Homo sapiens: one gene and its partner. The protein of the gene in region 1 purifies or fractionates together with the protein of each later gene. This does not show direct contact. Each region holds a gene or a part of one and is shown on either strand. Other genes may lie near its edges.

The links. The genes of interacting proteins can lie anywhere in the genome.
Region 2: the proteins of RCN3 (region 1) and EMID1 purify together in Homo sapiens (co-immunoprecipitation; one large-scale study listed by IntAct). This does not show direct contact.

Annotation. Positions count from the first base shown.
Region 1 is NC_000019.10:49,538,003-49,541,067, reverse strand, and holds part of RCN3 (reticulocalbin-3 precursor), read right to left. Parts: intron 2,061-3,065; coding exon of another isoform or gene 1,950-2,060; coding exon 1,889-1,949; intron 1-1,888. UniProt on the Homo sapiens protein: Probable molecular chaperone assisting protein biosynthesis and transport in the endoplasmic reticulum.
Region 2 is NC_000022.11:29,212,396-29,215,895, forward strand, and holds part of EMID1 (EMI domain-containing protein 1 isoform 1 precursor), read left to right. Parts: intron 1-2,530; coding exon 2,531-2,644; intron 2,645-3,131; coding exon 3,132-3,235; intron 3,236-3,500.

The DNA of each region.
Region 1 (3,065 bases):
TCCCACCTACTCAGGAGGCTGAAACAAGAGAATTGCTTGAACCTGGGAGGCGGAGGTTGCAGTGAGCCGAGATCATGCCACTGCACTCCAGCCTGGGCGACAATAGCGAGACTCTGTCTCAAAAAAAAAAAAAAAGAGATGGGGACAGCTGCTGGCATCTGGGGCCTGTGACCTCCTTGTTGTCAGGGCCTGTCCTGTGCACCGGAGAATGCTAAGGAGCATCTCTGGGCTCTATCCAGGAGACGTCAGTAGCATCCTCACCCCTCTAGAAGTGACAACCAGAAGTATCTCCAGAGGCCGCACTGTGCCTGGAGTCTCAGCTACTTGGGAGGCTGAGGTGGGAGGATCCCTTGAGCCCAGGAGGTCAAGGCTGCAGTGAGCCAAGATCACCCCACTGCACTCCAGCCTGGGCGACAGGGCAAGACCCCATCTTTTTTTTTTTTTTTTAAGATGGAGTTTCGCTCTTGTTGCCCAGACTGAAGTGCAATGGCGCGATTACAGCTCACTGCAACCTTTGCCTCCCGGGTTCCAGAGATTCTCTTGCCTCAGTCCCCAGAGTAACTGGGATTACAGGCTCCTGCCAACAGGCCCGGCTAATTTTTGTATTTTTAGTACACCATCTTGGCCAGGCTGGTCTCGAACTCCTGACTTCATGATCCATCCATCTCAGCCTCCCAAAGTGCTGGGATTACAGGTATGAGCCACTGCGCCTGGCCCAACCCCATCTCTTAAGAAAAAAATATAAAAATGTTCTCTCAGCCAGGTGTGGTGATTCATGCCTGTAATCTCAGCTCTTTGGGAGGCCAAGGTGGGAAGATTGCTTGAGCCCAGGAGTTCTAGACCAGCCTGGACAATATAGTGAGAACCCATCTCTATTTAATAAAGAGAGAGACACACACACACACAGACAGACAGATAGAAAGAAAGAGTGACAGAAAGAAAGAAAGTGAGAGAAGGAAAGAAAGAAAAATGTTTTCTCATGTAGGATGTGGTCAGAAAAAAATAAAAGAATAAACAATGTTTTCAAACTTAAAAAAAAATTCCTGGCCGGGCGTGGTTGCTCACGCCTGTAATCCCACCACTTTGGGAGGCCAAGATGAGCAGATCACCTGAGGTTGGGAGTTCTAGACCAGCCTGGCCAACATGGTGAAATCCCATCTCCACTAAAAATACAAAAATTAGCCAGGCGTGGTGGCAGGCACCAGTAATCCCAGCTACTCAGGAGGCTGAGGCAGAAGAATCTCTTGAGCCCGGGAGGCGGAGGTTGCAGAGAGCCGATACCACGCCACCGCGCTCCAGCCTGAGCAACAGAAAAAAACTGTCTCAAAAAAAAAAAAAAAAAAAAAAAATTCCTTGTTAGCGTTCTCCTTGACTAAATTTTTTGCCCGCTAGGGGCAGGGACAGTGGCAGGGGCCCAGGGAGAACTCAGAACTCAGGGGGTATTGTGAGGATCCCCCAACATCCCATGTAACAGGAAACAGTGTTTGCTGTGCAGGCGCAGGTTCAAGACCAGCTTCCTGACCCCCATTCTCAACTAAACATAGCCCCTGAGCCTTGATTTTGTAGAAACTCCAGACCCCCAAGAAGGGATTTGTCTGTGTTATTGTCTGCTGTAGGCGCAACCACCCATATGCAGTAGGTGCTCAGTAAGTGTATCCTGGGCGTGACACACAGCAGGTGCTCAATAGATGCTTTTTGTGTCTGGTATAGAGTAGGTGCTCAATAAATGTTGGGTGGCTAAATGAACTCAAGCAGTGAGTGCCCCTGCCCCCATGTCTGAGGGCCACTGTTCTCTGATGATGGGTGATGTACCTCCGGCTACCCCCACCAACCCTGCCCATGCCTGAGAGAGGACAGGCATCCCAAGAAGAAATTGGGGCCCACTCACCGATGTACTCCTCCACCTGGACATAGCCATCTTTGTTTCTGTCCAGGTCCTCCAGGGTTTCCTGGAGGAGAAAGGGGCATTGAGGCTGGGGGCCGATGACCCTGGCTCCTGGGGGAGGCTGGACCCCTGGGGTAAGAGTGAGAGGTTCTCTTGGAAATTTAGCTCCGGGCAGCTGTGGGAGGCAGGCAGTAGAGCAGTCTCAACAGGTGGCATGTGGGAAATTTGCGGGCTTTCTGGGATGTTATCATCAAACAGGCACCACCTGCATTTACGGGGCCAGAGCCCAGAGGCCCTAATGTCCAGCAGTGCACAGGTTTGTTGCTCACAAGGGGAGCTGTCCTGGGTCCCTAATAACTTGCTCAAGCCCCAGCAAACACCCTCCAAGGGGAGAAGCTCCTTTATGTTTAGCAGAGCCTAGAACCTACCTCTGCTTTATGTGTGAACATGGTGCACTTTGGGGCTTCTTCTGACACACTGGACACCTCCGCTCCTTGTTTTTGTGCCCTTCTGGAGCAAAACGACTTTTGTTCCCCAATTTATATCCAAACTCATTCACTATAAGACTGTGGGCTGGGCACGGTGGCTCACACCTGTAATCCCAGCACTTTGGGAGGCCGAGGCGGGAGGATCGATTGAGCCCAGGATTTTGAGACTAGCCTGGGCAACATGGCGAGACCCTGTCTCTACACAAAATTTAAAAATTAGCCAGGCATGGCCGGGCGTGGTGGCTCACAACTGTAATCCCAGCACTTTGGAAGGCCGAGGTGGGTGGATCACGAGGTCAGGAGATCGAGACCATCCTGGCTAACACAGTGAAACCCCGTCTCTACTAAAAAAAAAAAAAAAAAAATTAGCCGGGCATGGCGGCATGCGCCTGTAGTCCCAGCCACTCGGGAGGCTGAGGCAGAAGAATGGAGTGAACCCGGGAGGCAGAGCTTGCAGTGAGCCGAGATCGCATCACTGCACTCCAGCATGGGCGACAGAGCGAGACTCCGTCTGAAAAAAAAAAAAAAAAAAACATTAGCCAGACATGGTGGCTTGTGCCTGGTGGCCTCAGCTTCTCAGAAGGCGGAGGTGGGAGGATTACTTGAGCCCAAGAGTTTGAGGTTGCAGTGAGCTGAGATTGAGCCACTGCCCTCCGGTCTGGGTAACAGAGTTAGGCCCTGTCTCAAAAACT
Region 2 (3,500 bases), on another chromosome or scaffold:
AAAGGGCTGAAATCTTCACCTACTCATTAGGAGAAACATTTCTAGCCTAGGGTTGAGAGTGCAAGCTCTGGAGCCAGAGGGACTTGAGTTCCAACCCTGACTGTGCCGCCTATCATGGGTGCCTGGGGCACGTCCTGGACCCCAGAGTCTCAGTCTTCCCATCTGTAATGTGGCTTTTTTTTTTTTGATACGGAGTCTCACTCTGTTGCCCAGGCTGGAATGCAATGGTGCGATCTCAGCTCACTGCCACCTCCGCCTCCCAGATTCAAGCAATTCTCCTGCCTCAGCCTCCTGAGTAGCTGGGATTACAGGCTCCCACCATCACACCCGGCTAATTTTTTGTATTTTTAGTAGAGACAGGGTTTCTCCATGTTGCCCAGGCTGGTCTCGAACTCCTGACCTCACGTGATCCACCCATCTCGGCCTGCCAAAGTGGTGGGATTACAGGCATGAGCCACTGTGCCCAGCCTGAAGTGGCTTTTTAATAAGAGTGTGAGAATTTAACTGAGCGAACACGTGGACGGCTCTGGGCACAGCTCCTGGCGTGCAGCAAGCATGATAAACATAGCTACTGTTCGTGTAGTAGACGGAGCAGATGGAAAGCCCTCCTTGCTCCCAGACATGGCAGTTTGAGAAAAGTGTCATTTTTTTCTCACTTTATATGCACATATCTGTACATGTGCACGCATATAGAAATAGTTGACGTTCTGTCTCTCTCTTAATGTAATAGAAATGCAATCACTGTATATCCATTGGTCTTTGTCTGCTTTTTTCCTCCCCGTAACTAGGTGTGATAGCTGGGTCTCAGGTCAGCACGCAGAGACCTCGGGCTTTGTCACAGCATCTGGTTTCCCATGTCCGGTGGCTCCATAGCTGTTTAGGCTGTTCCCAGTTTTGTGCCATTTCTGATGGTGCCATGGCAGGCACCTGTCACCTCTGCATGGGATGGCTGGCTGAAGGCTCTGTTGAGCTTCTCCTGCTTCATGGGCCAAACTGAACCATCCCTTCTCCCAGCCTTCCCACCTCCAGGGCTGTACCTAGGTTGTTTCCTCTTCCAGCACTGATTCTGGTGTGGCACAGAAAGATGAAGGGAATTCCACAGGGCCCTAAATTGAGTTAGTTGCCTGGTCCTGGCCCAGGAGTTTCTCCTTCTGGTGGTCTGGGGTGGGGGCAGGGCTGCAGCGAGTGGGGGCTGCACTGTGGTCGGCATGGGAGTCTCTGTGAAGGCCGGGACATTCCAGGTGCTCAGCAGCCCTCAGCCCTGCACAGGGTCACGGGCCCTGTGCTTTTTGCAGGGGTTGGGGAAGGAGGGATGGTTTCAGGTGACCCTTCTCAGCCTGGGTCCCCCACCCCTCCCAGACTTTCTTCCTGCCCTCAAGCCTGGGGTCAGCAGGTTCCCAGGCCGGGGCGTTTACAGAGCCACAGACCGTGGCTCAAGGAGATGAGGAGAAGACGGGAGCTGAGGCTCTGGGATGGCGTCAGAGGCTGGGCTAGGCCATCCACCTTGCTGGGTTCAAATCTGGCTTCTCCACGCACCAGCTGTGACATAAGCAGTTGTCTTCACCTCCCCAAGCCTCAGTTTCCCCTCTGTAAAAACAGGGTGGGGGTACCTTCCTCACCATCAGAGGATAGTGTAAATACCTTTAGCATATAATAAGTGCTCAATATGTGCAGTGCACTCCGATTATTAGTTGGTGTTTGGAGAACTCAGTCCTCTGGGCTTGGGGCATTGATTACACATCCCAGCCATTCCACGGAGGGGACATGGGAATGGGTGAGACAGGGCCTCTCCTCTTGCATGCTGGCGGAGGGGGCAGGCACAAATTGGCAGCTTAATTCAGCGTGACAGGTGTGCAGATGCTGCGGGAGCCAGGGCAGGGCACCATCAGAACTGCTCGGGTCAGGGTGGAGATGGGAAAGGATGGAGGGAATAGGCCATGTCACATCTGGGCTTTGAAGGTAGGAGGCGCCATGGGGAGAAGCGGAGGAAGGGTACTCCAGGCAGAGGGCCCAGCACCAGCAAAGGCCTGGGGCAGGTGTGGGTACAGGAGATCCTGAGGGTTGGGGAGTTGGGTAGGCAAGGCAAGGATGTAGGCAGGTTTCCATTCTGTGACACTGCCTCTAGGGAGGGACCGAGGGGCAGATGGAGAGGCCACTCACTGTAGTTGTCCAGGCAAGAGCCAGGCAGTGATGATGGCCTGGATGGGTCAAAGTTGGAGAGGAGAGAAGTTGGGGAGCGAGAGCTCAGGGGAAGATGGCCCGCTTCCATCTTTCCCCTGCCATTCATTCCTCAAGACCTACTGAGAACTCTCTGCACAGCCCCACCCCTAGGGCCATGACATTCACCCCTCAGCCACAGGGACTCCCCCCAGCCATTTGGGCCCAAATGACTTTGCAAGCTCAGGGCTTCTCGCTGCCTGGGGATTCAGGGCTCTTGAAGAGAACACGGACGTCCTCACCCATCCTCCTGGAGTCCCCAGCAGGGGACCCTGTGTGGTACCTGAGTTTCCTCTCTTTGGGTCTGTTTCAGGAACTGGTGCTCCTATGTGGTGACCCGCACCATCTCATGCCATGTGCAGAATGGCACCTACCTTCAGCGAGTGCTGCAGAACTGCCCCTGGCCCATGAGCTGTCCGGGGAGCAGGTAAATGAGGTGGAGAAGGAACTGATGGCATTCCAGGTGGAGGCACAGTTTGGGCAAAGGCCTGGTTGGGGGACTGCATGGGGAGTGTGGGGGAAGACTGGACCCCAGGGTGGGCGGAGCAAAGGTAGCATCAGCCGACACCATTCTCAGCCTATCCCCTGTGCTGTTGAAGCACCCTGGAGGGCTTCCTGAGGGATGGATACACCATTTGCCTGCATTCCTTTACTCAGTGAGTATTCACGCTGGGCTCAGGCCAGCCCAGCCTGCAGGGTCTTCTTGTCCAGCTGGTATCCAATCTCCAATCCCTGTGGCAAGGTGGTGGGGGGATGGAAGGGCTGAATCCCAAAATGCAGGAGAGAGCCTCCAAAGGGACCTGGAGGCAGCAGAGGATCCTGGAAGCTCTAGGTTTGTCCCCATGGGTGTCCAGGGCAGTGGGAGAGGTCATGGAGGACCCTGTCTCAGCTGGGCCACCTGGGGACTCTTTCAGCTACAGAACTGTGGTGAGACCCACATACAAGGTGATGTACAAGATAGTGACCGCCCGTGAGTGGAGGTGCTGCCCTGGGCACTCAGGAGTGAGCTGCGAGGAAGGTAGGACTGCCCGGCCGGCTCCCGGAGCCCTGCGACAGCAGGCCAGGTGCCTCCCTGCAGGTGCATGGAGCCGTGAACTATTAAGAGAGTCATGCACAGTACCATGCCTGCTGGGGCCAGCTGCACAGAGCCTGGCTCAGACACAGTCAGTGCTTGTTGTCCCCCCTGCCCCCCACGGTGACCGCTTGCCTCTTGGGAGACTCTCAGGACCCCCAGAAGAATTTTATATATGCTGCATAGCTCACATTTTAAGTCATGCTATCCT